Linked DNA regions of Homo sapiens. The protein of the gene in region 1 purifies or fractionates together with the protein of each later gene. This does not show direct contact. Each region holds a gene or a part of one and is shown in the gene's direction. Other genes may lie near its edges.

Region 1 (15,020 bases):
CCAAGTAGCTGGGAGTACAGGTGCATGCCACCATGCCCAGCTAATTTTTGTATTTTTAGTAGAGATGGGGTTTCAACATATTGGCCAGACTGGTCTCGAACTCCTGACCTCATGATCCGCCCACCTCAGCCTCCCAAAGTGCTGGGATTACAGGCGTGAGCCACCGCGCCTGGCACTTCTTAGCCATTCTTAAGTGTTAAGTGTGTTCATATTGTTGCAGTGTTACTTTTAAAATGAACATTTCATTTCCAATCTGTGTAAGGGAAAGGGAGACATTGAAGATATATGTACATGCAGCCAACATAGTTCCCTCAGATGCCTCCTGTGTGCCAGGCTCTGGCTGGCTAAACAAGGATGAAAACATAGGGTTTCAGCCATCTGTTGGTCTCATCAGCTGTGGGGACAGATCTGCAGACAAATAGAGTACAGCATCATTGTTCTAACAGCTATGCACAGCATGCAGAGGAAGATTGTGTGGTGCAGGCATAAATCAGAGGAGATAGCCCTTGAATCAGACTTACAGAACCAAGTTGTATCTTGGTGGGCAAAATTACACAGAAGAGCATTCCAGGCACAAAGTCACAGACATGGAGACATGAGCTCATTGTGCATCTGAGAAATATAAGTGAATTGGTTAGGCTGCAATACAGCAAGCAGTAGCAGAAACTGAGCCAGGTAGAGGCCTGATAAAGTCTTGCATGCCTGGCAGTCTTGCATGCGCTGACCATCTTCCTTCAGTACCCACTAAAGAATTTTGAGCTAGGAATTTGACAGGCTCAGATTTGCCTTTTAGATATTTCTGGCAGCAATATGGAAACTAAGTTGGAGAGGAGGCCTTTATTACAATTCAGATCTCCTTGAATAATCATAGAAATAAAAGGTGGTAAGAGCTTGAAGTGAGGCCAGAGGAGTGGGAATGGTGTTGGAACTGAGATCTTCAGAAGGGAGAATCATCTAGACTTGGAGATGGGTAGTGAGACACCTGACAATGATGTTTAAGTTCCCAGTATAAGGACTTGGGAGGATATACCATATACTGAGATGGGAGCAGTTTTTAGGGGTATTTTTTCTTTCTGCTGGTAAAACTATAGTAGTTCCTTCTACTTAACTTGAAATTTATTCCAATACTGTGAAACTGTGAAACTCTATTTGGCATGTGGTCAATATTTTAATCAAATAAATATAACCTTTTCCTAGACTTTTTCCCCCTAGTATTTTTGTGCAGCTCATTTTCCCTCCACCCTCTCTATTCCATAGTAAACTACAGTCAAGGAACTCTAATAGGAAAATCTCATACAACTTTATGTGTTCTACTTTGCAGGGTAGTAGATCATGCAGAAGAAAACAAGATGAACTCCAAAAACTTGGGGGTGATATTTGGACCAAGTCTCATTAGGCCAAGGCCCACAACTGCTCCTATCACCATCTCCTCCCTTGCAGAGTATTCAAATCAAGCACGCTTGGTAGAGTTTCTCATTACTTACTCACAGAAGATCTTCGATGGGTCCCTACAACCACAAGATGTTATGTGTAGCATAGGTGTTGTTGATCAAGGCTGTTTTCCAAAGCCTCTGTTATCACCAGAAGAAAGAGACATTGAACGTTCCATGAAGTCACTATTTTTTTCTTCAAAGGAAGTGAGTTTGACCTTTATAGAATTATATTAGAACTTTGTAATATTTATGTTAATAAGTTAAAGATCTTTGAACTGTTTATTTTGAGGTTATGTTTTACTTCTTCCATTTTAAAAATTATCTTGCATCAACAGGATATCCATACTTCAGAGAGTGAAAGCAAAATTTTTGAACGAGCTACATCATTTGAGGAATCAGAACGCAAGCAAAATGCGTTAGGAAAATGTGATGCATGTCTCAGTGGTGAGTAGCCATGTAAAAAAAAAATATGTTTGCTGGCTTAAAATTTTACCAGTAGAACCGTGATTAAAACCAAGGTGAGGGGCAATGAGGGAAGCCAGAGAATGAAGCTTTATTAGTTAACAAATCTTGGCTAGCCATTGAGAAAGTTGCCTTTTAGTGTATCTTGCATTTAAATGAATGTCATTCTTCATAAAAGTCTTTCTTATAATAAGACATCTTGGAGTTTATAATGTTTTTTGTGTTCCTTCTGAATTTTGTTTTTGTTTTTGAGTTTTGCCATCAGCTAAAATCAAGGTAGAAATGTGTTGAGCAATGTGATATTCGTTAGTATCTTCCAGTTCCGTAGTTCAGTGCATTGAGCTAACTGCTCATACAGAGTCAACTAGACTCCTGAAATTCAAAAACTTTAGAGTCCTACTTTTTTTTTGACATGCTTTTTACCTGTGGCCTACATTTAACCTATTAAACACAGAGATGTGTATGTCTTTTTTCTTTCCTTGACTGCGATCATTTTATTCACTTATTTTCTCTTTATAATATTAGTTGCTGTCATTGCTAGTTGTTAAGCTGGTGGAAAAGCTTCCATTTGTATTGTCATTTCTACATTGTTATAGCTAAATTCCAGTTTTTTACATTGCAGCCATATATGTTAAATTTAATGTGTAATCAAGTATCAGTGATCATAGGGTCTAAAAAGGAAAGGAGGGCCGGGCATGGTGGCTCACGCCTGTAATCCCAGCACTTTGAGAGGCCAAGGCGGGCAGATCACCTGAGGTCAGGAGTTTGAGACCAGCTTGGCCAACATGGTGAAACCCCGCCTACTAAAAGTACAAAAAATTAGCCAGGTGTGGTGGTGGGCGCCTGTAATCCCAGCTACTCGGGAGGCTAAGGCAGGAGAATCACTTGAACCCGAGAAGCAGAGGTTGCAGTGAGGCGAGAACGTGCCATTGCACTCCAGCCAGGGTGACAAGAGAAACTCCATCTCAAAGAAAAAAAAAAGGAATGGAACTAACATTCACCAGGTACCTGCCTGTTCTGTGCTAAGCACTGTGCTTATTTGTTTGATTCTATTTGATCTTCATAATAGTTCTGTGCTATAAAGTAAATAGCATTATCCTCATTCAACCCATAACTAACCGTCTGAAAGAGACTAAGTAATGCCAAAGGTTGTTCTCTTAATACATTTGAACCCAGTTCTGATTACTAAACCTAACCTTTGTGGCTATCCCATGAAGCTCTTAGGAACAGTAATAATAATAAATGTCACTTTCCAGTGTTTATTACATACAAGATAATTTTAAGCACTTTTCCTAGTAGATCATTTAGATCACACAGCAACATAGATACACATAGGAGTCTTATTTCGCAGATGAAGACACATAGGACAGTGATATTGCCTAGCCCAGTGCAGAAGTGGCAGGCAGGGCTGAGCCAGGACCCAGGCAACTGTGCTTCAGAGTCTGTGCTCTTCTCCATTATGCTCTAAGTTTTTCCCTCAGAAATTTAAGAATATATGTTGGTGCCTAGAGTCCAATTGCAAGGAACCAGGTCCCTTAGAATGCTCTATAAATGTGTGGAGGACCTGGGAAAGCAAATCAAAAGAGCCTTGGGCCAGGTGTGGTGGCTCACACCTGTAATCCTGGCACTTTGGGAGTCTGAGGTGTGCGGATCTTGAAGCCAGGAGTTCAGGACCAGCCTGGCCAACATGGTGAAACCCTGTCTCTATTAAAAATACAAAAATTATCTGGGCATGGTAGCAGGCACCTGTAATCTCAGCTACTCAGGAGGGTGAGGCAAGAGAATCACCTGAACCCAGGAGGCAGAGGTTGCAGTGAGCCAAGATAATGCCACTGCACTCCAGCCTGGGTGACAGAGTGAGACTCTGTCTCAAAAAACAAAAACAAAACAAAACAATAAAAGAGCCTTGGAACCCAGGGAAGAGAGGCCAGCAGTCCCAGGTGTGGAAGAAGTTCAGATGAGACGATGACCAAAAAGTGACTCTGGTGGGCACCTGTCTGCAAACCACTGCCTAAGAGATGTGGGTGAAGGACTGGGTGGCAGAGAAAGGATTGCATGCTGTGCTTGGGGCCGACTGTAGCTTAAAGTCAGGATGGCGTCAAGGCACAGAGTTGGTGGATGTGTTTCAGCAGTGAACAGAAAAGCAGGAGAATGGAGGGCTGGAACATTCCTGGAATTGGAATTTTTTAGGATAGATGCAGGAACTGAGGCTTCTAAGTGAGAAAACATGGACTGTGGGTTCGGACTATAGAAAGAAAATCCGGGAGCAGGTGGGGAAAATGGCACTTTTTAACTTAAAAGCATTCAGCCTTCATTTGACAGAATGGATTTTATGCTTTATTAGTTGATCAGATATGGAGAGCATCTAAGGCATCTAATATCATATGCTCTCACTGGGTTGAGTGTAACTGAAAAGCAGATTGAGTGAGTTGGCAAAATCCTTGGGATTCAGGGCACACTTACATCTGGTTGGTGTGTAAATTAGTGTCACTTTTCTGAGGTTAATTTTCCAATGTCTGCCTATTGAAATTGTGATAGTCTTTTGACCCAGAAAGTACTTGTTCATGCACAGCACTTAAAAAGAAGTTACTCAGCAAGTGTTTTTTTTGTGTTTTGTAGCTGTTCATGTTGATTTAAATGAGTAAAAAATTTGAACTTTTAAATTCAATATACACCTTTAATACTGTGCAAATGTTTAACTCCTCCACATAGGTAACTGAGAATATTATTTTGGAAAAAATATGTAAGACTCATATTGTCTTGATAGAGTGTTCATCTCTAACTCATTCAAACTCTCTTATTAACCATGTGCCACAAACTTAAATAGATTTCTTTCATTTTCAGACAAAGCACAGTTGCTTCTAGACCAAGAGGCTGAATCAGCATCCCAAAAGATAGAAGATGGTAAAACCCCTAAGCCACTTTCTCTGAAATCTGATAGGTCAACAAACAATGTGGAGAGGCATACTCCAAGGACCAAGATTAGACCTGTAAGTTTGCCTGTAGATAGACTACTTCTTGCAAGTCCTCCTAATGAGAGAAATGGCAGAAATATGGGAAATGTAAATTTAGACAAGTTTTGCAAGAATCCTGCCTTTGAAGGAGTTAATAGAAAAGACGCTGCTACTACTGTTTGTTCCAAATTTAATGGCTTTGACCAGCAAACTCTACAGAAAATTCAGGACAAACAGTATGAACAAAACAGCCTAACTGCCAAGACTACAATGATCATGCCCAGTGCACTCCAGGAAAAAGGAGTGACAACAAGCCTCCAGATTAGTGGGGACCATTCTATCAATGCCACTCAACCCAGTAAGCCATATGCAGAGCCAGTCAGGTCAGTGAGAGAGGCATCTGAGAGACGGTCTTCAGATTCCTACCCTCTCGCTCCTGTCAGAGCACCCAGAACACTGCAGCCTCAACATTGGACAACATTTTATAAACCACATGCTCCCATCATCAGTATCAGGGGGAATGAGGAGAAGCCAGCTTCACCCTCAGCAGCAGTGCCTCCTGGCACAGATCACGATCCCCACGGTCTCGTGGTGAAGTCAATGCCAGACCCAGACAAAGCATCAGCTTGTCCTGGGCAAGCAACTGGTCAACCTAAAGAAGACTCTGAGGAGCTTGGCTTGCCTGATGTGAATCCAATGTGTCAGAGACCAAGGCTAAAACGAATGCAACAGTTTGAAGACCTCGAAGGTGAAATTCCACAATTTGTGTAGGGATGTCAAATTTCAGGGTTTTTTTGTTGTTGTTGTGTTATTTTGTGGTATTGTGCTTGTTTTGTGAAAGAATGTTTTGACAGGGCCTCTTTTGTATAGGACTGCCAAATCATGGGTTTTGCCTTTTGTTGTTGTATTTATCCTCTGTTGGTAATACTGAATGGTAGAATGTTTTGATAGGGTCACATTTGTGCCTCACTGGAATTATCTTTAAATTCTGTATTTTTAAAGTTGTGAATAAGATAGGTGGATTCGTATTTTTTAAAGTTCAGTTGACTTTCCCCACCAAATGGTCCATTTGAATGCATCCCTAATATATGATATAGTCTCAACTAATAGGTGCAATTTGGGAAAATCAGGTTTATTTTTTGGAGTGGAACTGTTATAAGTGCTTATTTATAAAAGGAATGTTTCTGAATGCAAGTGCCTAAAAAGATCTTTGTTGGTATGCATATGTTTTGTCACACAATTTTATAGTGCATCTTTCACCATTTGTGCTTTTTTAAGATACGTATGTAAGCTCTTATTTTTCAATTGGCAATTCAGTTAATTTTTAAATGTTTACATAATGGCCAGAAGGCTTGCAAATCTGTATTTAATTGCATTTTAATTAATTGCCAGTTTTTACATGTGATAGTCAGTTGTACAAAGAAAATGCACTTAAACCTGTTTCTAAATTATATATTCAGTTATATTATATTTGGCTTTAGATGGTTTTAATACATTTGATAGTTTTTCACCCCTTGGCTTTATTTTATATAAACTTTTGTTTTTCAGCAGTTCTGAACTTTTTAGTATTTTATAAATGGTCCAAAAAATGCCTGTTTCAGAAGTTTTTGAATTCAGTGCATTTCCTCTTGATTTGTCTGGGTTAAAACCATTCCTTTTGTATGAAATGTTTTGACTTAGGAATCATTTTATGTACTTGTTCTACCTGGATTGTCAACAACTGAAAGTACATATTTCATCCAAATCAAGCTAAAATTTATTTAAGTTGATTCTGAGAGTACAGGTCAGTAAGCCTCATTATTTGGAATTTGAGAGAAGGTATAGGTGATCGGATCTGTTTCATTTATAAAAGGTCCAGTTTTTAGGACTAGTACATTCCTGTTATTTTCTGGGTTTTATCATTTTGCCTAAAATAGGATATAAAAGGGACAAAAAATAAGTAGACTGTTTTTATGTGTGAATTATATTTCTACTAAATGTTTTTGTATGACTGTGTTATACTTGATAATATATATATATATATATATCAACTTGTTAAATTATTTCATGTTCCCGTGGCTTCTTTTCAGTTGTTGCCTATTACAGTATGAGAGTTTAAGGTTATTAACCATTGGCTTAGAAGTCAACACCTAGGATCATACATCCGTTGACTACAATGTGGAATGAATTTTATGGAAACCTGTTTTATAGTTCTATGTGATGTAAAGGTCTAGGGAGCAATAACCAGCCCTTTTTTTTCTGAAGGCTTGTTTTTAGTCCTCATTGTACAAAATATAAAATAATCATATTGCTATGAATACCTAAAAAGAAAATTAGAGCCCATGTGTATTGAGCCTTCTCTGTGTGCCAGGAACTTTGCCAAGGTGCTACATAGATTATTTTATTTCAAGTTCACAGCAACCTATAATGGGTGGGTAAGCATGTTATTATTTCTGTGTTACAGATAAGGAAACTAAGGCTTAGTTAAATGACTTGCTTCAGTGTTCCACAGGTGTAACAGGTGGAGTCAAATCTCAAACATAGGGCTGTCAGATTTTGATGGTTAGTGCTCTTAATGACTGTGATTACTAAATAATATCTGGTAGTTTTTAACAATAGAAAATGCAACTTTAAAAAATTTTTATTGTGGTAAAATACACATAACATTTACCATTTTTAAGTATATTGTTTGAACCATTTTTAAGCATATAGTTCAGTGGCATTAAGTATATTCACATTGTTTTGCAACCATGAGCACCTATTCATCTCCAGAACATTATCATCATCCTATACTAAAACTTAGAAAATGTACTTTTAAACTTCTTCAGTTCTCTTTTAATATATGGAGCCCACCCAAAGGTTATATCATGTAATAAACTCATTTCTCTGTTTTCCCTCACAGCTTAAAAATGAGAATTTCACTTTTGGGTCCTTTCTGCCTTTAGGGCTCCCTGGCACTTTGTCCAGCGTAGAGCCTTAAGCCTCTAGATGCTTTCTAGTTTCCTGGGGCCCTGAGGCAAGTATCTCTTGAGAAGAGGTTGCTATTTCTAGAGGATCCACAGTGTGCACTGTGTTGTGCTATCTAATAGTGTGGTGGAAATCATTTATCCAGAAGTTGTTTTTTGCAACATGGAAAGATACGTGACCAAAAGGAAAGGGCAACAGCAGGAGCCCTGTTAGTGCTGCCAGAACACCAGGAAGCCTTGTGGGAGGCGTATTGTCCAAGATGATGCGTATTGTCCAAACGACTCAGAAGAAGTCATTTCTGAAGGGTTGATCATAACTTCCCTAGCCATGTTTTACCTACAGAGAACTTAGTTAGAATTTATGAGTACAGTATGTTAAATTACTTTTAGTGTACCTTAGGCAGTGTATTTGTTTTGATACAGAGACAAAGACTATATGATCCCTGAGACTTGTTGCCTAGTGAACTCACAAGCAGATAGAATTGTACCTCAGTTATTTGGGTGATTTAAAGATGGTACTATGGCTACACTATTCCCAGCTATCGTTGTGTTACAGTATTTATACAACTGGAAACATCTCTCTAAATGACAACCATTGTATATTGTTAAATAACTTATAGTCAGTGGAATTCTGTGGGTTTTTCTTTCCTACAGGCAGGAAATTATGGTGATGTGTTGATATGATTATATATGTAGACTATTCAGTTAACATCTAGGAGTTAGCAAATTTGCTACATTCACAATCAGTATGTAAGTCAGTTGTATTCCTAGATATCAGCAACTAACAGAAATGGAAGTTTTTAGAAAGATCTCTTCAATATCATTAAAAAATACAAAATACTCTACCTAAGAATAAGTCTAACAAAAGATGTACAAGATCTTGATGGAGAAAATGTTAGACCATGTCAGGAAGCATTTAAGGAGATCTTAAATAAATGTAGTACTCCATAATGTACACGAATTAGAAGACTCAGTCGTGTAAAGATGTTCATTTACATTTGTAGATTCAATGTAATCCCAACCAAAATATTTTTTGCATTATTACCTCTATCTACTGTGTGTTTCCTTAAGACAAGGGCATTCCTACGTAACCATAGTACAACCATCAAACTTAGGAGATTGACATTGACATCATGATATCTAATCCATAGACCACATTCAATCTGCTGATTTTGATTGCCTCAGTAATGTTCCTGTGTTTCAGCATCCCAATCCAGGACCACATAGTGCATTTAGTTGCCCTATCTCTTGTTTCATTCAGTCCAGAACATCTTTTCAGACTTGTCTTTGACCTTGACACTTGAGGAGGATTGGCCAGTTTGTAGAAAGTTCCTCAGTTTTGGTTTATCATTAGATAAGACCCATAAGGTTTAGGATAGACATTTTTGTCCAATACTACAGAAATGATGCTCTATACTCAAATGTGTCATGCCAGGATGCACACAATGTCAATTTGTCTTATACCTGATAGTATTAATTTTGGTCACTTGGTTCAGATAGTATATACCAGGTTTCTCCATTGTAAAATTAGAATTAGGAAGTAATTTGTGAGGAGATTCTTAAAGATTGTAAATGTATTGTTTCTCATCGAATTGTCACGGGCTAGTCTATTGACAATTCTTGACTGAACCAATTACTATTTTGGTTGTCAAATGGTGAGTCCGTGGCTTCTGCCTTGGTTGGCATCCTACTACTGTAAGGAAGAGCTCTTCCTTCTCTATTCCTTCATTCACTTAAATCAGTATAGATTCATGAATGCCTGCTTTATTCAGTGACAGTGTATTATTGTCACTTATTTTCATGCTGAAATTTTCCCCGATTTGGTTTTTGGGAGTCTCTTCAAGCTGGCTTCTGTGTTCCTTAGAGATGCCTCATTGCTTTTTCCCCTCTTATTTTTTTTACGAGCTCATCTTACACTTTTTCCTACTCCCTACCCCAAGTCTAGAATTAGCCCTTTTTTCCAAGGAGCCCTGGTTTCTTTAAATGGGAAATGGTATATGGAAATGAAGACCTGAGAAAGGCTCACTGTCTTATTGGTGAACAGCTCAAAGGAAAACGTGTGTCTACACACATTCAAGAATAGTCACCTACTTCTATATCTATTTATATACATACGTATTGAAAACTTTGAGTTCACATTGACACCTTCAATTCAATCCTTTGAGGTTAATCTAGTCTCCCTTTCCATCTTTGTAACTTCCTTCTCTCATAGAAACCTGACTCCCATAATCCTAAATAATTTGTTCATTCTTCCTCCCTCCCTCAACCTCTTGACATGCCAGCTGCTGTCTCATCACACCCAGTCCCAAATATGCCAAATAAATCCGCAGTCATAGCAGCGCTGGTCCTGACCACACCAATCCCTAACATCCTCCCCAGCCTGGAGCCTGGACCATGGCAGCTGAATCTTTGACCCCAGTGATGTCAGTCCTGAGCACACCATTGGAATCCTAGGCTCCTGTCATCTGGCTGGAAGAGAGACAAATTCACAACCTTTTGATAATGAGCAATTATTGAATACTCACTGAATTTATCAGAGAAAGTTTAAAAGTGTACGATTATACATATTTACCAGGAATGTTTAAACATAGACATTTATGAAATTTATAGAAAATATTGAATTGTGGTTCTCACTTTTTGGTCTTGGCTGTAACAATTTTTAAATATTAATACTTCCTACAATAACTGTATCATGCTATTTTTAAGTGTCCTCACACTCAACCAATCTACTCTGCATCCATAAAATAAGCATGCAGTTCAGAAAATAGATTAAACGACTAATTGGCTATGCTTCTGAGTTACAAGTTTTATTTGAGTTCATCTTCAGCTTTAAACAATTAACAAAAAGCTGTACATGACATGAAAACCTGTCTCAGATTTCTGGATGCAGTCATGCCCATTCGTTACAGGATATTGTAAGTCTTCCTTTTATAGTGTTGACAGTACTGGAAATGAGATGAATAGTGACCGTTACCAATGAGGCATTGCTCATTGATAAGTGAATACAGCACTGAAATTTAAAAATCAGGCCGGGCATAGTGGTTCATGCCTGTAATCCCAGCACTTTGGGAGGTCAAGGCGGGTGGATCACGAGGTCAGGAGTTCAAGACCAGCCTGACCAACATGGTGAAACCCCGTCTCTACTAAATATACAAAAATTAGCCAGGCGTAGTAGTGTGTGCCTGTAATCCCAGCTATTCAGGAGGCTGAGGCAGGAGAATTGCTTGAACTTGGGAGGCAGAGGTTGCAGTGAGCCGAGATCACACCACTGCACTCCAGCCTGGGTGACAGAGTGAGACTCTGTCTCAAAAAAAAAAAAAAAAAAAAAAGATCGGGATGACTATAACACAGCCTGACTATAAGAATGGCAAGATCTTATTTACAGTTGTAGACACAGACCTGACACACAGTAGTTGCCATCTGCCAAATTCTCTGTAGATCATTTTATACCAGAAATTTGCTTTTTGAGATCTACTGCCAGCAAAATAAATCTTCTGTATCAATTATTTTAATCAAAGTTGTAAGAGTTCATCTAGTAGTTGCCAAAAAATGAGTAGAATGTGTTGTGATTCAACACAGGAGACTAGGACGGTGAACCAAGGTCTACATATTCTCCATCTCCAAGTATAGATACATAAGTCTCATGATTAAGATTCAATGAGAGTTTTAAATGATTTTTTTGTTTTAAAACTGAGTCATAAATGCAGCAGTGTGTACATATATATGTATCATTTAAAGAATGATTATAAAACGAATTCCCATTTGCCCCAACACCCTCATCAGGATGTTAAGGAACCACCAGGATGCCCCTTCCTGATCACATGCCTGTCACTTCTCACAGCAGGTGTAACCACTATCTTGAATTTTATGTTAATCCTTCCTTGGCTTTAAAACAAAAAAAGCTACCTATACAATTGTAACTATAGTTTATTTTCATTTTTTAAAAAACTAAAGTATTTTACTGGGTTTATACTACAATGTATTAATCCCACTGTTGATGGGCATTTAGGTTGCTTTCAGGTTTTCTTCCTACTATGAACAATGTTACATTGAAAACTTAATCTATTTTTCCCTTCATTCACTTTTTTTGTTTGTTTTTTGTTTTTTGTTCTTGACACGAAGTCTTGCTGTGTCACCCAGGCTGGAGTGCAGTTGCGCTATCTCGGCTCACTGCAACCTCTGCCTTCCCGGTTCAAGCGATTCTCTTGCCTCAGCCTCCCGAGTACCTGGGATTACAGGTGAACGCAACCACACCCACTAATTTTTGTATTTTTAGTAGAGACAAGGTTTCACCATGTTGGCCAGGTTGGTCTCGAACTACTCACTTTGAGTGGGCTGCCTGCCTCGGCCTCCCAAAGTGCTGGGATTACAGGTGTGAGTCACGACACCTGGCCCTCCATTCACTTTTTTAAACAACAACAGCAACAAATATGCGTTGTGATGATCATCTCATTTAATCTTTACTTAGGCAGGTGTGATGGTTAATACTGTCAACTTTATTAGATTGAAGGTTACAAAGTATTGATCCTGGGTGTGTCTGTGAGGGTGTTGCCAAAGGAGGTTAACATTGGACTCAGTGGGCTGGGGAAAGGCAGACCCACCCTTAATCTGAGTGGACACCATCTAATCAGCTGCCAGCGAAAATAAAGCAGGCAGAAAAATGAAAAAGATAGACTGGCCTAGCCTCCCAGCCTACATCTTTGTCCCATGCTGGATGCTTCCTGCCCTTGAAAATTGGACTCCAGGTTCTTCAGTTTTGGGACTTGGACTGGCTCTCCTTCCTCCTCAGCCTGCAGACATCCTATTGTGGGACCTTGTGTTTGTGTAAGTTCATACTTAATAAACTCTCCATATATTTGTGTGTGTGTGTGTGTGTGTGTGCGTGTCCTATTCTGTCCCTCTAGAGAACCCTGACTAATACAGATTTTGGTATTGGGAGTGGTTCTAGAGGAACAGAATATTAAGGATGGAGTTCTTTCATTGGTTTGGGGTTTCTGGAGTTGGCTGCTTAATATGATTAGAACCCAAAATGCTAAGGACTCTACTTCTAATAGTATGGAGAACACTGATAGTCCTTGGTGTGAACTGTTTAGAGAGTTATGCAAAATAAATGCATTTGACCCTCCTGATTCATTACTCGTGAGAGTCAAGTTTAGTGACTCTATGCATAATACCTTTCACCATATGTGGAGAACCAAGGAACATAATGAAGCTGGTTGGTTGTTCCTATGTTCAGTGGACAAAGTGATGAAAGAAAATTATGAACTCAGGGATTCTGTCTCCCAGCTTCAGAAACAGATAGCCTCAAATCTGCTAAGACTGCCCTGAGTGAGAATCTTATCTCCTGAACAGAAAGAGCTGAAATTGTGGAAAAACAAACACAAGCTCTTATCATGTGAGTGGCTGACTTGTAACAAAAGATGCATGCACCAGGTGTTTACTGTTAAAGTGAGGGCATCTACTGGAAAAGAATGGGACCCTGAAACTTGGAATGGGGACATGTGGGACTGCCAGATCCCCCTGATGAAACTAGGGACACTGAGTTGTGGAATAGATTTGTAAGGGCAGCACCTGCATCTTTGAAGAGCCCTGTAATTGCTGTAATTGCTCTTCTCTGTGTGTCAGATCTAATGATGGGAACTGCAGTCACTCAACTACAAAATTTAAATACAATGGGAATAATTGGATCCCGAGGTAGCGGGGGCCAAGTGGTGACACTCAACCATCAAAGGCAAGGTGGGCGTAGTTACCATAACGGATAGCAGAGGCAAAGCGACAATCAGAATAGTCTGATGTGTCTAGAGCTCTGGCCTTGGCTAATTAATCATGGTGTTCCTAGAAATGAAATGGATAGGAGGCCTACTGCATTCCTACTTAATTTATACAAGCAGGAAATTTCTAGGTTGAATGGACAAAAGACTAATTTGAATTATAAAAACAGAGAATCATGGCCACTCAATCAATTTCCAGACTTGAGCCAGCTCACAGACCCAGAACCCCTTGAATGAAGGGGAAGCCAGAACCCCTTGAGGAAGGACACCACATTACTGACAATTTATGCAGTGAATCTTTCTCCCATCCTTCCCCAAAGAGATCTCTGGCCTTTTACCAGGGTAACAGTGCATTGGGGAAAAGGAAAGGATCAGACATTTCGGGGACTACTGGACACTGGCTCTGAGCTGACATTGATTCCAGGGGACCCAAAAACGTCATGTGGTCCTCCAGTTAAAGTAGGGGCTTATGGAGATCAGGTGGAATTTTAGCTCAGGTCCGACTTACAGTGGGTCCAGTGGGTCCCCAGACTCATCCTGTGGTCATTTCCCCAGTGCCAGAATGCACAATTGGCATAGACATTTAGCAGCTGGCAGAACCCCCGTGTTGGCTCCCTGACTGGTAGGATGAGGGATATTATGGTGGGAAAGGCCAAATGTAAGCCATTACAGCCGCCTCTACCTAGAAAAGTAGTAAATCAAAAACAATATTGCATCCCTGGAAGGATTGCAGAGATTAGTGCTGCCATCAAGAACTTGAAAGATGTAGGGGTGGTGATTCCCACCAAACCCCTGTTCAACTTTCTCATTTGGCCTGTGCAGAAGACAGATGGATCTTGGAGAATGACAGTGGATTATTGTAAGCTTAACGAAGTGGTGACTTCAATTGCAGTTGCTATAGCAGATGTGGTTTGATTGCTTGAGGAAATTAACACATCTCCTGGTACCTGGTATGCAGCCATTGACTTGGCAAATGCCTTTTTCTCCATTCCTGTCCATAAGGCCCACCAGAAGCAATTTGCCTTCAGCTGGCAAGGCTGGCAATATACCTTTACTGTCTTTCCTCAGAGGTATATCAACTCTCCGGCTATGTGTCATAATCTTATTCACAGAGACCTAGATTTCTTTTCACTTCCGCAAGATATCACACTGGCCCATTACATTGATGACATTATGCTGATTGGATCCAGTGGGCAAGAAGTAGCAAACACACTGGATTTATTGGTAGGACATTTATGTGCCAGAGAATGGGAAATAAATCTGACTAAAATTCGGGGAACTTCTACCTCAGTAAAATTTCTAGGGGTCCAGTGGTGTGGGGCCTGTTGAGATATTCCTTCTAAGGTGAAGGATAAGTTGCTGCATTTGGCCCCTCCTACAACCAAGAAAAAGGCACAATGCCTAGTGGGCCTATTTGGATTTTAGAGGCAACACATTCCTCATTTGGGTGTATTA
Region 2 (15,020 bases), on another chromosome or scaffold:
CCCTGGCAGGCTTCGGAGTCCTCAGTCATCAAGGGAGGAGAACAAGGGGGCTATAGTGGTGGTTCAGTGCCTCGGGACTGTGCCGGCTGGGTTGTATACTTTGCTTTCTGAATGATCTTGCTTCGTGGGGAGGGGACATAGGGAAGCACCTCAGCCCTGAGGAAACGTGTGACACTGGAAATGGAAGCAGCCAGGGCCCACCCAGGAAGAGACATGGCCATTTCTTTGTCTCCTAGCACTGAACTGGTTAGTTTGGTGTCAGGCCATTCCTGAAGTGCTCCATGAGGTGCACCTGTAACTGCCAAGGCTTGGAGCAAAGGTCAAACCGAGGGAGGCCTTTGGAACAGAAGTTCCCCATCAAGAGAGTTCACGTGAGGGGAGGGACAGGACAGTCAGCCAAAGCGGAGTCGTTTCTGCATTAGAATGATGCTCAGGGGTTGGCATTTAACCCAGAGGTGGCTTTGTGGGCAGAAACTTGAAGAGGAGACCTCAGAAGACTTCAGGTTGGTTTTTTACCCAAGAGCTTTGGAGGCGGGGAGCAGGGAGGGATTCCGCCTGCCAGCTTTTTCTCGCAGCTGGTGCATCGCCCGAGTCTTCTTCCAGTGGCACCCTCCCGGACCTGTCTGCGATGCTGCTTTAGGGACATTTGTAAGTGGTCTTTCTTTTGGATGCCAGGGCTTTGTTGCCTGAATATGGGGGCTGCCCCACATTTCTTAAGGGAAGCAGTGGTGTAGACCACAGTCTTTGGAGTCAGGTAGCACTGGATTCACATCTTGACCCACCACTTAGAAGCTCTTTGGCCTTTGTTAAGAGACTTTGTGTCCCTGAGCCTCTGGTGCCCTCATCTGTAGAATGGGAATAACATTCATCTCAGGTGGTCGAAAGGAATAATAAACTCCTCAAAGGCAGGCACTCTGTCTGTTCCTCCTGAATCCCGCTGCCTAGCGTGGGGTCCAGCACATAGTAGGTGCTTGATAAATGCTTGCAGAATCAGTAATGTATGCAAGAGCCTAGCACAAGGCCTGGCATAGTAAGCACTTAATAAGCTGTTATTGTTGTCATTGCCTGAATGTGTGCGTGGCCTTCCAGGCTCACCATCCATTATCCTGCACCACGTGCCTTCCTGCTGAGCTCTGCCTTTCCACCTTCTTCCCCACCCCTTAGTTCTGCTCCCATTTACTGCTCTGGAAGAGCTCTCTGGCTTTCCCATCTGGTCATTGTTGTCCCCTGCCGTCAACATTGCTAGGTGCTGCTCACGCTGCATCTCACCATCGTGCATCATATCCCAGGACCACCTTCTCGGAGACCAGCCCTCTGGGAAGGTTCCGGCTTTTCTCCATCTTGACTTCTTAGCCATGAAGCTTTTCTCTCTTGCCTGAGTCTGAGGTGGCAACCAGAGCGCCAGGCTCTGGCTCCCAGGCTGCATAGCCTTGCACTGGGGGGCACTGGGCACGTCGCCACTTCCCCCCACTGCTCCTTCTGGAGAGCCCTGTGAGCCCGACAGGATGGGGCAGGGGTGGGGCTGCTGAGGAGAAGCCTAGGATTTCCAAGTTTTCTCTCTGTTAATCTCTGTCCCCATCTCCTCTCTTGCAGTGCGCCTCCATGACAGTATTTCTGAAGAAGGGTTTCACTACCTCGTGTTTGACCTGTAAGTGCCACTTTCTGAGGGTGTGGGGGCCTTTCCCTCTAGCTGACTCAAAATGAAGGCTCAGGAAGAGGCCTAAACAGGCTCTCCAGCCTCCGCCCAGGGCCCCCTCCTTTGTCCGAGGGAAAGGATTTGACTGGGGCAGATTGCTGCCCCCACCAAGGGGGTCTCCATGTTCCCCCAGCGTCCCCCCAGGGCTCTGAACCCCAGGACAGCATTCCTCTCGCACTTCTGTTCAGCAGCACGCCTTGCACAGATGCCTTTGTCTTGTTTCTCAGTGTGCTGTCCTTAGTGAAGAAATAAAAGACAGCTCTTTGCATGACCTTAAAAATCCTGAGAAATCAGAGGTAGCTTTCATTAGTCGGAAACCAGGCTCCATTGGATTGGGTCTCTCCTCCACGTTGGTTGTGGTTTAATGTCTTAAAAGTGGCTCTTACCTCCTGGACACTCCTCTCCAGGATTCTCAGGGTTGGGTCTCTGTGTCATTGGTCTCATTACTCTTCAACTTCAGTAGTAGCTCTGTCCTTCCTGGGCAGCGATATTTTAGTGTTTATGTTGGTCTCAAAGCTGTGACTTTTGGGGTAGGTTGACTGTTTTCTCTTAGATCCCTGTATCTTCATCTCTGCCTGACTATTAGTGAATCTGTGCATTTTGGAAAAAGAAATGTCCGGAAGGAAGGGACGGCCCATGATACCTCAAGGAGAATCCGGGTGTCACTGAAGGATCGAGTGTGTTCTGAGCTCTCAGATGAAATGCATGGGGAGTTGGGATTTCTCTGAAAGCCATTCTACAGGGTGACCCTGTTTCTTCTTGGACATTGGGGTTGGACAAAGGACCCTTTCTGCCTCTGACCCTCTTCTTCCCGTTGGTTGCAGTGTTACCGGCGGGGAGCTGTTTGAAGACATTGTGGCCAGAGAGTACTACAGTGAAGCAGATGCCAGGTAGGATGAGGGCCCGAGAGTTCAAATGTAGCTCTGGAGTTTAGGACTGAAGGAAGTCTTGGCCACCTTCGGGGTCCAGCATTGTACCTGTTTGAATAGTCTTTGGGGAAGATCAGAATAGCTCTTGTCTGGAGAAAGATTCTGTTGAGCTGGGCTAGGGCTTGCATACTGTGGGTGATATTAGAAGTTAAAAATTCAGCACTTCCTAACCAGGCGCAGTGGCTCATGCCTGTAATCCCAGCACTTTGGGAGGCTGAGGCAGTTGGATCACCTGAGGTCAGAAGTTGGAGCCCAGCCTGGCCAACATAGTGAAACCCTGTCTCTACTAAAAATACAAAAAAATTAGCCGGGTGTGGTGGTGTGTGCCTGTAATCCCAGCTACTTAGGCGGCTGAGGCAGGAGAATCACTTAAACCTGTAAGCGAAGGTTGCAGTGAGCCAAGATCATGCCACTGCACTCCAGCCTGCGTAACAGAGCGAGACTATGTCCCCCTCCCCCCCCCCACAAAAAAAATCACTTCCAAATGAATGTTTTACAAAGCTTTTCCAAGTCTCCTTTACCCTGTGACCCCAGAAATACTTTTTTTTTGCACTACCATGTACTCGCCACCATGCCCAATGTCCCCCTCTGCCCTTTTCTTTCCTTTGACAAATTCTGGTGTGCTCAAGCCACTGTGCTGAGGCTCTGGCATGATCCAGAGGTGCAGAAGACATGGTTTCTGTCCTGAGGGAGTGGAGAGTTCTGGGCTGATAATCCAACCATAGAGCCCCGGGAGCTTTCAGCCTCTGTCACCTTGTCCCTAGACCACCATGACCAGCCTTGCCGTGGGGCTCCTCCAACTTGAGGACCGTTCCCCGGCCACATGCCTCAGCCTCTGCCCTCCCTGGAATCCCTGGTGCCTCCCTCACCCACGCTCTCAGGCGCCTGTTCAGCCTGCCTTTCCCGCCTTGGCTCTTCCCCCAGCCTTGCTTTTCTCGAGGGTGATGTCCCTACAACCTGGTTTTGATCATCCTGCCTGCAGCTTATCTGGCTTATGTGGCAGCTCTGGCTGCTTCTGGAGAGTGGGGGAGTGCAGCTTCCTCACGAATTTCTCAACCTTGAGAGGCCAATGTTTGCTGATCAACTTCAGATGCTTCAGCCTCGGGAAGAATTCTCAAGTGGGGAGATGAATTCCAGTGCCAGCAGGGGAGGACGAGGCTCTGGGACGGAGGAGGCAGTGATGGCTCAGGGAGCCTGCGGGGAGGAGGGAGAGCTATAGGGAGGGGGCCCTGAGGGGGGGTGACTGTACCAGTGGGCTTGGCCTGGCTCTGCTGGGACACTTCGCACTTTTGCCATTTTTGGCCAGAAGGCGCTCCCTGCTAGCCCGGCTCTGTTCTAATTATACATCTCTGTGGAGACTCGCCTCTATAGCTCAGTCTTAAAGTTTCTGTGGCCCACTCTTGGGCTGTGTCCTATGGGGAGGCCCGAGTTTCAGCCCCCAGGGACCCAGTACGACCCCTTGGTTCTTGTGGCATCCCCAGCATCAGATTTTAGGAATAGTAAGTCCAGGCCACCCAGCCCCATACACTGGGATGCTCTGCAGATGTGCTTAATATACCAGATAGTGCCTGATGACGGGGGTCTATATTCTAGGCCAAGTTCCTCAGCCTTGGTGCTACTAACGTTTTAGGCCAGGTACTTCCTTGTTGTGAGGCCTCTCCTGTGCATTGTGGCAGACATTTAGAAGCATCCTTGGCCTCTGCCCACCAAATGCTGGGAGCACCCCTCCTCCAGTTGTGACAACCAGAAATTTCTCTAGGCATTGCCAAATGTCCCCTGCGGTGGGGGGGGGCGGGCGGCAAATTCATTCCCAGTTGAAAACCACTGCTCTAGACTGCCCCCGCTCCCTGTCAGGAGTTTGATGACAGGGATGGCAGGATGGTTTGCTATGTGGACAGTCTGATTTACGTGTGTGACTGTGGCTGGGCGCAGTGGCTCACGCCTGTAATCCCAACACTGAGAGGCCAAGGTGGGTGGATCACTTGAGCTCAGGAGTTCAAGACCAGCCTGGGCAACATGGTGAGACCTTGTCTCCACAAAAAAATACAAAAATTAGCTGGGCACGGTGGCTCATGCTTGTGGTCCCAGCTACTGGGGAGGCTGAAGTGGGAGGATTGCTTGAGCCCAGGAGGTCAAGGCTGCGGTGAGCTGTGTTCACGACATTGCACTCTAACCCAGGCAACAGAGTGAGACCCTGTCTCAAAAATAAAATAATAAAATAACTTTGGGTTTTTTTCTCTACGCAAAATCATCAGAAGTGCTCCTTAAATGCCCTGTTTGGAAGCTCTTAAGTACATTGTTTCTTAAAGGTATCTTTGTACTTGTTTTAGCTGCCTTACTGGATGCCAGACCTCAGGGCAGCTATTGGGTCTTGTCCATCTTCATTATCCTAGGCACTCAATAAACATTTAGGGAAATGAATGAGTGCACCCACCGCCAAAGTAGCTTAGGTTGTTTAGTTGGACTCTCCTTCCTAAGTTGCCAGCACAAGCTTCTTCTCCAAGAACAAAGTTACTGTATGGAGAAAGAGAAAGAAGGAAGGGATTGGATGCTCTCTTCTTCCTCAGGATTCTGGGCTGTCTCCTGATCTCTTGGAAATGAGTTGGTTGTGTTAGACCTTTCCAGTCAAAAGGGGGTGAGAGGAACCCGTTCTAGCGGTGATCCTAGAAAAACCATTGCATCTGCCTGGGCCTCGGTTTCCTCTTTCTTTAAATAGGTTGAACAAGATGATGTGCAGAGTCTAAGGTTCCAGTGGCCGTTAAGTGATTCTCTGTGAATCCGTGGCCCCTTGTCACATGCCTTAGTCTGCAGCATGTGGTTGTGGATGTGGATGAGGTGGTTTAACCCTGCGCTAACATTTCTTTTCCTTCTGCTTTTTTAGCCACTGTATACATCAGATTCTGGAGAGTGTTAACCACATCCACCAGCATGACATCGTCCACAGGGACCTGAAGGTACTACCCAGGCTCCCCTCCGTGCCTCTGCTCATGAAGTGTTGGCGCCACCTGGTGCCAGATAGTGGTACTGCGTAGGCCCAAACTAGGCTTCCTCTGGGCTGCAGGGTGGGTGCTCACAAGGTTCTCTGTGTTTCTTCTGCAGCCTGAGAACCTGCTGCTGGCGAGTAAATGCAAGGGTGCCGCCGTCAAGCTGGCTGATTTTGGCCTAGCCATCGAAGTACAGGGAGAGCAGCAGGCTTGGTTTGGTAAGGGTGATCCTGTCTTCCCGGAATGCAGCCCCCGCCCTTCCTCCTCTTCCTGATCTGCCTTCCTCTATTAGAACTAGAAGCCAGACCCTTAATGGTCCTGGCCTCCGAGATCTCTCTTGGCCGTACGCGACTCAGTACAGTAAGTCTAGCTGTTGTCAGCACTGCTTTCTTGCTGCCTGTGGGAAGGAGCTGGAGTTCCTGGTAGGCATACGGCTTTGCCGTCTGGTTCAGATTCCAGGCGCTACAAGAAGCCCAGCCTGTCAGCTCTTGCTGCCCATGTGCTGAGAGTTTATGTAGCAAAAGCAGCAGGAATAAGATGGGACTTGGGGGAAATGGCTGGTGTGGATTTAACGAGAGAGAAAGTGGGTTCAGTATGCCTCTGCCCTCTCTTTTGCTACAGGTTTTGCTGGCACCCCAGGTTACTTGTCCCCTGAGGTCTTGAGGAAAGATCCCTATGGAAAACCTGTGGATATCTGGGCCTGCGGTAAGCCCATTCCACGCTCTCAGCTTTTCGCTGTTAAGGGCCCTCAACTTCCGATGATGGCAAGAAAGAGGCATCGCTATTCCTTGCAGGTCACACACGTGCCTGGTGTATGTGAAATTATGGTGTTTGCCCCTGGGATGGCTGTTCCCATCACACCCTCCTCCCTGCGTACTTCTGGGATGACATTGTATCCTTCTTGGAGAGGGATTTGCCCACGCCTTAGAGGATGGGTTGTGCCTAAAGAAATCCCTGGTGTGACTTGGTGACGTGAAGTGTGAGGCATAGCAGGAGGGGCTGGTAGCATAGCATTATCGGCTGGCATCCACTTCTGACTCTGGTATGGCCCCTGCCTTTCTAGGTGGCTCTGAGCCCTGCATGGTTTTTCTTGGTTCCTCAGGGAAGTAGGCGACTGACCCCCATGACCTGTGTGTTCTGTCTCGTAGGGGTCATCCTGTATATCCTCCTGGTGGGCTATCCTCCCTTCTGGGATGAGGATCAGCACAAGCTGTATCAGCAGATCAAGGCTGGAGCCTATGATGTAAGGACCAGAGAGCCGGGCAGCCAGGCCAGGAAGGGCAGATGTCCTTGCTCCTCGGGCTCTGTCCAAGGGAGCAGGCTTGTTTAGTGTGTCACGTGATACGGGGGTGTCAGGGGACTTTGAGGACCCAGGAATGGGCATCCAGGGCCCAATTCTTGCCACTCTATGTCCCAGGGAGCAACTTTCTTTTGCACAGCCTTCTTCATAACTAAAATTGAGGAGTCCACTGAAGTCCTTTGATCTTTACTTGCAAAGAATGGAGCGGCCTCATTGGTGTGCTGTGTAACACAGGGACAAAAGGCCTGGAGACTCCCTCCACTGCAGTGGCACCTTGGACACATTGCTGAGCCTCTGTTCCCTCCTAAGTATAGAGCTGGGCTTAAACCAGAGAATGTTGGAGTCCCCTTCCCGCTCTAATCTGATGTTCTGGCATTCTAAACATGACTGTTCTGTCTGTCTTTCCAAGTCTTTAAGTTGACACAGGTTCTGGAATAGCCGCAGGGCTTCTCCAACTCTGCCAGTCACAGCTTTAGGTACCACAGAGTATCCCAATTACAGGAGTTGAGTTGAAGACAGAACCAGTGTTGCAGGGTATGAAGCTCACCAATACCACATTCTTCTCCCTATTCCTGCTCCTTAGTTCCCATCACCAGAATGGGACACGGTAACTCCTGAAGCCAAGAACTTGATCAACCAGATGCTGACCATAAACCCAGCAAAGCGCATCACGGCTGACCAGGCTCTCAAGCACCCGTGGGTCTGTGTAAGTGTCTTTGCTAGTGGCCAAGGAGCTCAGGGGTGTCAGCCTTCTGTGTGCCCTCGGCACCACCCCCTCCTTCTTACCAGCAGAGATTCATTCTGGGCCCCAAGCAATAACTGAGCAGGCGGGCAGAGGACTGTTGAGGGCCAGGGTCAATAAATGTCACCAGGGAGACTCGGGAGGCTGATGGGGCTGGTGGGCCACTGCTCCTCTCTCCCCCACTCATGGCTGTCAGGCTGGGATTGGTTCTGTTCTTGGATGAGGGCTCAGGTTGACCCTTGTGGACTCCAGGTAGCCGGTGATAGAAAGCAGCTGGCAAAACCCAAAGTGAATTCCCAAGCTGGGGTTCATACTCAGATCTCAACTCCACTGGAGTGGTGACCAAGATCCAACAAATCAACAGAAGGGGTTTCTGAGTCATTAAAAGCATAAAAGCTGAGGCATAAAGCTTCTGCGCTAAAGTCCTAGGAGAGTCCTCTAGGCTATCAGTGTGGGTTGACGTACTCTGTTTTTATACACAATTCTTTCAAGCTGAAATATCAACTTTCAGACAAAGAAGAGGATTTGGTAGAGTTAGGCATCTTGACAACCACGAGGCATTATTTATCTGTCCATTCTGTGTTTATTAAATACCTCTTTGGTGCTGGTTACCGTCTGGGTGCTGGAGATACAAAGATGAATGAGGCATGGTCCCTGCCCCAAAAGATCATCTAGGGAGACAGGCACTCAAACAGGCAGTCATGTTACAATGTGACAAGTAGGTACAAGAATCTAATGAGAGTACAGGAGCTCCTACTGTTCCTGGTGGGTGGTGGGGTTACTGAAGGCTGCACGGAGGAGGTGACACCCCTGTGCTTGTTCTTGGCAAATAACGAGGTCCTCAGAACGTTAACCTGCAGACAGAGTTTAGCACAGTGAGAGGTTATGGGAAACTATGGTGAGTTGAAGGAATGTTGAGTTGTTTGGTTGTCGATGAGGCTGCAAATATCAGAATGCAAGAGAATGGGGCAAAAGATTCCCTGACATACAAGTTTCTGCCTCAGGAGTTTGGATTTTATTCTGAAAACATAGGGAATCATTTAAGGGTTTTAAAGAAGAATGAAATTTGCATTTAAGAACACTTTGGAAGTTGTGAGGAAATGAATTGCCAGGCATGGTGGCATGTGCCTGTAGTCTCAGCTGCTGGGGATGCTGAGGCAGGAGGATCATAAGCCCAGGAGTTTGAGGCTGCAGCGAGCTATGATTGCACCTGTGAATAGTCATTGTACTCCAGCCTGGGAAAGATGGTCAGACCCCACCTCTTTAAAAAAAAAAAAAAAAAAAGAAGGGAATTGAAAATTTTTAAAAGAAAAGGGCTGGAGACAGAGAGCTCAGGAAGCTTTTTTAATAGTTGGAATAGTCTAAGCAAGACCAGGTGAGGTCTCAGCAGAGGGTAAGGATGGGGGAATGTGCAGTGTGTTGAAATTCAAGAGATATTTGAGAGAACCTAAAGGATTTAATTCTCTCCAGTTGGATTTGGGGGGAGCAAAGAAGAGAGAGGCCAGGTTTCAAGTTGAGCGGAGAGTTGTACCCTCACTGACCCAGAAGAAAACCAGAGGAGGAGCTTGTTTGTGAGACAAGACGATGGTTTTCTCTTTTTTTTTTTTTTTTTGAGATGGAGTCTCGCTCTGTCGCCCAGGCTGGAGTGCAGTGGCGCGGTCTCACTGCAAGCTCTGCCTCCCGGGTTCATGCCATTCTCCTGCCTCAGCCTCCCGAGTAGCTGGGACTACAGGTGCCCGCCACCACGCCCGGCTAATTTTTTGTATTTTTAGTAGAGATGGGGTTTCACCGTGTTAGTCAGGATGGTTTCGATCTCCTGATCTCATGATCCACCCGCCTCGGCTTCCCAAAGTGCTGAGATTACAGGCATGAGCCACTGCGCCCGGCCAAGATGATGGTTTTCATTTTGTGCCTGCTGAGTCTGGCAACCTCCAGCCAGACACATTCAGTGGGTGGTTAGAAATATGGTCCTAGAGATTAGAAAAGAAGCTAAAAATTGGAAATCCACATTGTAGTCATTTCTGTGTAGTTGGTAGTGAGGCTGTAGAAATAGCCTCTTCCTATGCTGTAGATGGGCCTGTTCCTATGCTGGTTGAGTTCTTACGGTGAGCTTCTATTGGCTGTAGTAGAGAAGAGACGGCCACTACACACCAGCATTTAATGATAGGGAGAGTTAGGGGGCCCAGCAAAGAGCACTGAGAGTGAGACCTTCCAGAAGACCCAGAAGCTAAGAAACAGGGGGTCTCAGTAAGGGAGCGTCAGGAATCAGATGCAGAAGAGTCCCTGATTAAGTTGGGGAAGAATCCCCTGGCTCTGACCATTAGATGCCATTGTTTCATCATTTCACTGAGACAGTGGAGAGAAAGATGAAACCCTGTTTTCAGTGAGACGAAGAGGGAGTGAGGGTGAGGAGGGGCATGGGGAGCTAGGCATTGAGGTGGGAAATAAATGGTGATACTTAGATTAAGATGGGCCAGGGGAGCTTTTAATGTAAGGCTCACACCTGTAATCCCAGCACTTTGGGAGACCAAGGCAGGCGATCACTTGAGGCCACGAGTTCAAGACCAGCCTGGCCAACATAGTGAAACTCCATCTCTACTAAAAATACAAAAAATTAGCTGGGTATGTTGGTACACACCTATAATCCCAGCTACTTGGGAGGCTGAGGCATGAGAATCACTAGAACCCAGGAGGTGGAGGTTGCAGTGAGCCAAGATAATGACACTGCATTCCAGCCTGGGTGACAGAGGGAGACTCTGCCTCTAAAGAAGAAAAAATTTCTTTTTAAAGATTATATTGGTCAGGAGCGGTGGCTCACACCTGTAGTCCCAGCACTTTGGGAGACCAGGGTAGGTAGATCACTTGAGCCCGGAAGTTTGAGACCAGCCTGGGCAACATGGCAAAACCCCATCTCTACAAAAAAAAAAACTTTAAAAATTAGCTGGTTGTGGTAACGTGCCTTAGCTACTTGGGAGGCTGAGATGAGAGGATCACCTGAGCCTAGAGAGGTGGAGGTTGCAGTAAGCCATTATTGTGCTACTGCACTCCAGCCTGGGCAACAGAGTGAGATGCTGTTTCAAAAAAAAAAAAAAATTTTTTTGTTTAAGGAGAGGCTTAACTATAATCTATAGAGAAGAATCTAGTCCAGAGGAAAGAGTTGAAGATCCTTGCTAATTGAGGAAGCAAAGGTTTGGACAGCAGAAAAAGAGAGGGGGCTCCTGAGCCAAGGGCAGGGGGTCCATCCCGGGGATGACCATGATCCCCCTGAGACTTCTATTAGTGTGGAGGCAGGTGAAGATCGGCTTGTGAGTGGAAGTCTGAGCTGAAAGGGGTTCTTGCTGATGACCTCTCATTTTGCTTTTGGAGAAATTTACACCGAGGAGGAGGTAAAATGAGAGACTTGGGGAAGGTAGAGAAGGTGGGGAGAGTTGCCTCCGGACCTGGAAAGAGTGGGCCAAGGGTGAGGGAAAGGATGCGAGGAGGCCCCGTAGTGTTGGTGGGCACCTGGCTGCAGGTGCCAGGATTTGTTTTTCTGACAGGCTGGTGAAGACAGCAACAGCAAGGGGAGAGGGCAAGCAACCTGAAACAGGCACCCAAGAATGGGGGAAATATTCTGTTCTGGGGTCATTTTTGCAGGCCCTACCCTCTGCAGTCCCGTGTGTCTCGAGCCCCTGAGGACATCACTATATTCTGAAATTACATAATGATGCTGGTATTGACAGCTGAGTCATTGAGGAAGTGTAGACTGTGTCCCATGGACTCTGTTTAAGGAGGCCAGGAAGTTAGCAGTAAATACATTGAAGACAAATTTCCATCCAAAAAAGGCGGGGCACAGTGGCTCACACCTGTTATCCCAGGACTCTGGGAGGCCGAAGTGAGCAGATCACTTGAGGTCAGGAGTTCGAGACCACCAGCCTGGCCAACATGGCCAACCCTGTCTCTACTAAAAATACAAAAATTAGCTGGGTGTGGTGGGATGTGCCTGTAGTCCCAGCTACTCGGGAGGCCAAGACAGGAGAACCTGAGAGGCGGAGGCTACGGTGAGCCGAGATTGCACCACTGCACTCCAGCCTGACTGACAAAGCGAGACTCCATTGCAAAAAAAAAAAAAAATTACATCCAGAATGATGAAAAGAATTGATGCTTCAAGGTGACGATCCTTAGCTTCTGGGATCATGGCTTCATTCAGGACCTTGCTGGGGGTGTGTGGAGAGGGGCTCTTGGAAGGAAGGAATGTCCTCTGTAGAGAGCAGGAACCCTGCCGTTCTCTCGCTGCTGAGCATCTGGAACGCAGTAGGTGCTCAGTAAACAGCTGCCTAAGGAGTGACTGAATGAGGATCACAGCCCCCAGGGTACTCTCCTGTTCGGTAGCCTCTGTTTCCCAAGGAAGAATAGGACGGTCTCTCAGCAGCCCGTCTAGCATCCGTTATGGTGTTCTCACGTTCATGTTGTCCTTATGTAACCTTGAGTTTCGGGTAGTGCTTTTATTCTAAAAGCGTTTTCACATCTGTGACCTCATTTCATCTTCAGAGCAACTCTGGGGTGGCTGAGTGCATGACCCTGTCCTGGGCATGGTATCGGTGCCAGGACTGTGGGAGGCGCAGAGGATCTGGGCTGGGGCTCATAGCCTGTCTGTTTGGTTTCTAGCAACGATCCACGGTGGCATCCATGATGCATCGTCAGGAGACTGTGGAGTGTTTGCGCAAGTTCAATGCCCGGAGAAAACTGAAGGTGAGTGTCGTTTCTAGGCTGCCAGCCTCCTTGACATCATGCCTTGCACCAGTGTGGCTCCTGCCCCATTTCAGAAGGAAGCTCCCCTCCTGGCTGGAGCTGGGCTCTGAAGGTTGTACATGTCACAGGGGAGGGGGCCCAGAGGCCTGATGTCTTCAGGCTCTAGCCAGGACCTGCCTTTGCCTGAGACCAGCCTGCCCTTTTCTAGGGTCTCAGTGAATTCACAGGACCTTCCTCTTTCCCCAGGGTGCCATCCTCACGACCATGCTTGTCTCCAGGAACTTCTCAGGTATGTTTTCCCAGCTGTGTACTTTGATTATGCCGAGGTGAGTGGATCAGGAATGGGCTGTTGCCATCCCGGGCACCGCTGGGTTTCCTCGGCGTCCTGGGCCACACCTTGACCAGGGCGAGTGAGGATCCTGTTTTGAGGGGCTGCTGCTGCTGCTGAGTCCTGCTCCTGAGATTCAGGGGGCTGGACTCACATTTGTGAATTGTTTCCTAGAACTTCCCAAGGAGTAGCCTGCCCAACTTGCTATGTACCTTGTTTCTCTGGATTCTTATTTAACTCTCTGAAGACTCTCAGCACTTTACAGATTTTAGCCATTCTAGGATCTTGGAGGATGTGCTGGGGGAAGAAAAGAGAGATGAGGTACAGTGAGTCTTCTCAATTGCCAAATTGCCACCATTCATTTGCCTGCTGGGACGATCTCTTACTTCATTTTGTCCAAGTGGAGATGACTAATAGAAATTATTCCAGATGTTTAAACCTTTTGTGGCGACTTGTGCTTAAAATAGTCCCTGAGATACTAGCTATAACAGTGAAGAAATAAAGACCAGCAGGAGAGAGGGAAAGGAACTTGCTTAAATTTGCATAAAGAATTGGGAGAGGTGGGACCAATAATTTGTAAATCATACTTGACATTTATTTTTAAGATGCAAGACACTCCACTCCCCTCTTGCCCCCACCCTCACCCCAACCCCTATTATTGTTTGCCTTCAATTGGGAAGCACAGTGGCTTTTTTGTGAGGAAAAGATTAATGTCGAGACTGAAGACAGAGAGGGCTCTGCCCAGCTTGCCATCTCCCCCGGTCCTCCCTCCCTCTAACCCCTTGCCTCACTGTTTTGGTTCAAGACCCCCCCTTCTCCTTCCCATAATAAGACTCCCTCCCTTGCTTCCCCTCTGCACCACCATGGAAAGGGGGTTGTGTGGGAGCCTAAGCCACCACTCAGTGGGAGCCACTTCTGAATACCCGTCCTGCTGGGCTCGCCTGCGCTGGCTCCAGGTAACGCCAGGGCCTTGGCTGTGAGGATGCTGCAGGCAGGGAGCCTAGGGCTTCGTGGTGTAGCCTGAGAGCCATGGAGCTCCGGAAGGCCAGGGCTGGATAGTGAGCCCGGGGCTGGTGGTGCCCTGCCCTAGGCCTTCTCCTTTGACCCTGGTTTGGGGCTTGATCTTGTGTCATGGGTACCCACGACGGGCATACTGTGGTGTGGCTCCACCTCTCGCAGATGGGAACAGGGAAGCGTGGCTGGCTGCCTCCGGTGGAGTTGCAACTGTAGTCCCACACTTGCTTCTTGTGCTTTAATGACGCAGCTTCTACTTTTTGGGTCTACGAGCCTTTCCAGAGGACATTGAAGGGCGTTTCGGTGTTGCCCCTAGAGCGAAGCTCTGTCCTCTCTCCCCTCTGAGTTGAAGAAATGTGAAGACAGTCTGCTGCTTCTCTTTTAGCCCAGCCAGTCAATAGCAAGGGCCCTGTCTTGCAGCCCCGGGCCTCCACATCAGCCTCCCCCTCCATTTCAGGAAACTGGCATCCTGGTTTCAGGAAATCGGGTGTTAGGACAAAGCATTTTATTCATCCCTGTAGAGCCTCCTGTTCTTATTGGCCAGACCTAGACTGGCCTTTGAGCTCACTTTGCCTTGGGTCAGAGGAGACAAACAATGTTGCAAGCATTCCAGGATGGCCTCTTCTGCCCTGACTCTGGGACAGGTGAGGACAGAGTCTGTCCGGAAGCTTCTGCAGAAAGAGGTGTCTATGGATGCAATCAAGAAGGAAGGGCACCTGTGTGTTTCTCTAGGGCTGTTTTTTGAGTTGACCTCCAATAGGAGATGTGGCTTATCCTGGACTCTAGCAGTTTGGCTAACAGCGAATCGGGGCCTCCAGAGTGTATTGCTTCAGCAGCCTTTGTTTTCTTTCTCAGGGTTTATTTCTTGGGCACCTTTCACCTCAGCACACTGTGACACACAGACTGAGAATGCTGCCTCTCTCGGCTACCTCCCTTAAGACAGGGACCTGTGTCTCTGAGGGGTTGGGGGGCATGGAGCTGGGGCCCACCAGTAAACTTAGCTGCACAAGGGCCACAGACCCTCCCTGGGACCCCCACGCCAGTCCCTCTAGTGTGTGGGATGTAGAGAGGGGAGAGGGCTGCTCTGCGCCCCCGGCACTCTCATCGTGGGCTCATTTAGCTTCTAGGGAGGGAAGGACTAGAAGGGAGGGCGTTTCATCACAGCCTTAAGCTAGGGCCGGGCTACCTCAGAAGGGGCACCTGCCTCTCACCGGCTCAGGCATTTCGCTGTGGACCCTCCTCCGGAGGGGGTCATGAGACAGGCACTGCAGCCCTCTCCATCTGGTGGGGACGCAG

What was found.
Region 2: the proteins of ARHGAP29 (region 1) and CAMK2G purify together in Homo sapiens (affinity purification with mass spectrometry; 2 studies listed by BioGRID and IntAct, with this or other methods). This does not show direct contact.

What each region holds. Positions count from the first base shown.
Region 1 is NC_000001.11:94,164,469-94,179,488, reverse strand, and holds the end of ARHGAP29 (rho GTPase-activating protein 29), read left to right. Parts: intron 1-1,321; coding exon 1,322-1,637; intron 1,638-1,768; coding exon 1,769-1,877; intron 1,878-4,739; coding exon 4,740-5,620; 3' UTR 5,621-10,584; downstream 10,585-15,020. UniProt on the Homo sapiens protein: GTPase activator for the Rho-type GTPases by converting them to an inactive GDP-bound state. Has strong activity toward RHOA, and weaker activity toward RAC1 and CDC42. May act as a specific effector of RAP2A to regulate Rho.
Region 2 is NC_000010.11:73,839,820-73,854,839, reverse strand, and holds part of CAMK2G (calcium/calmodulin-dependent protein kinase type II subunit gamma), read left to right. Parts: intron 1-1,593; coding exon 1,594-1,648; intron 1,649-2,520; coding exon 2,521-2,586; intron 2,587-5,506; coding exon 5,507-5,579; intron 5,580-5,724; coding exon 5,725-5,827; intron 5,828-6,230; coding exon 6,231-6,314; intron 6,315-6,757; coding exon 6,758-6,852; intron 6,853-7,048; exon of another isoform or gene 7,049-7,492; coding exon 7,493-7,615; intron 7,616-12,298; coding exon 12,299-12,382; intron 12,383-12,628; coding exon 12,629-12,671; intron 12,672-15,020.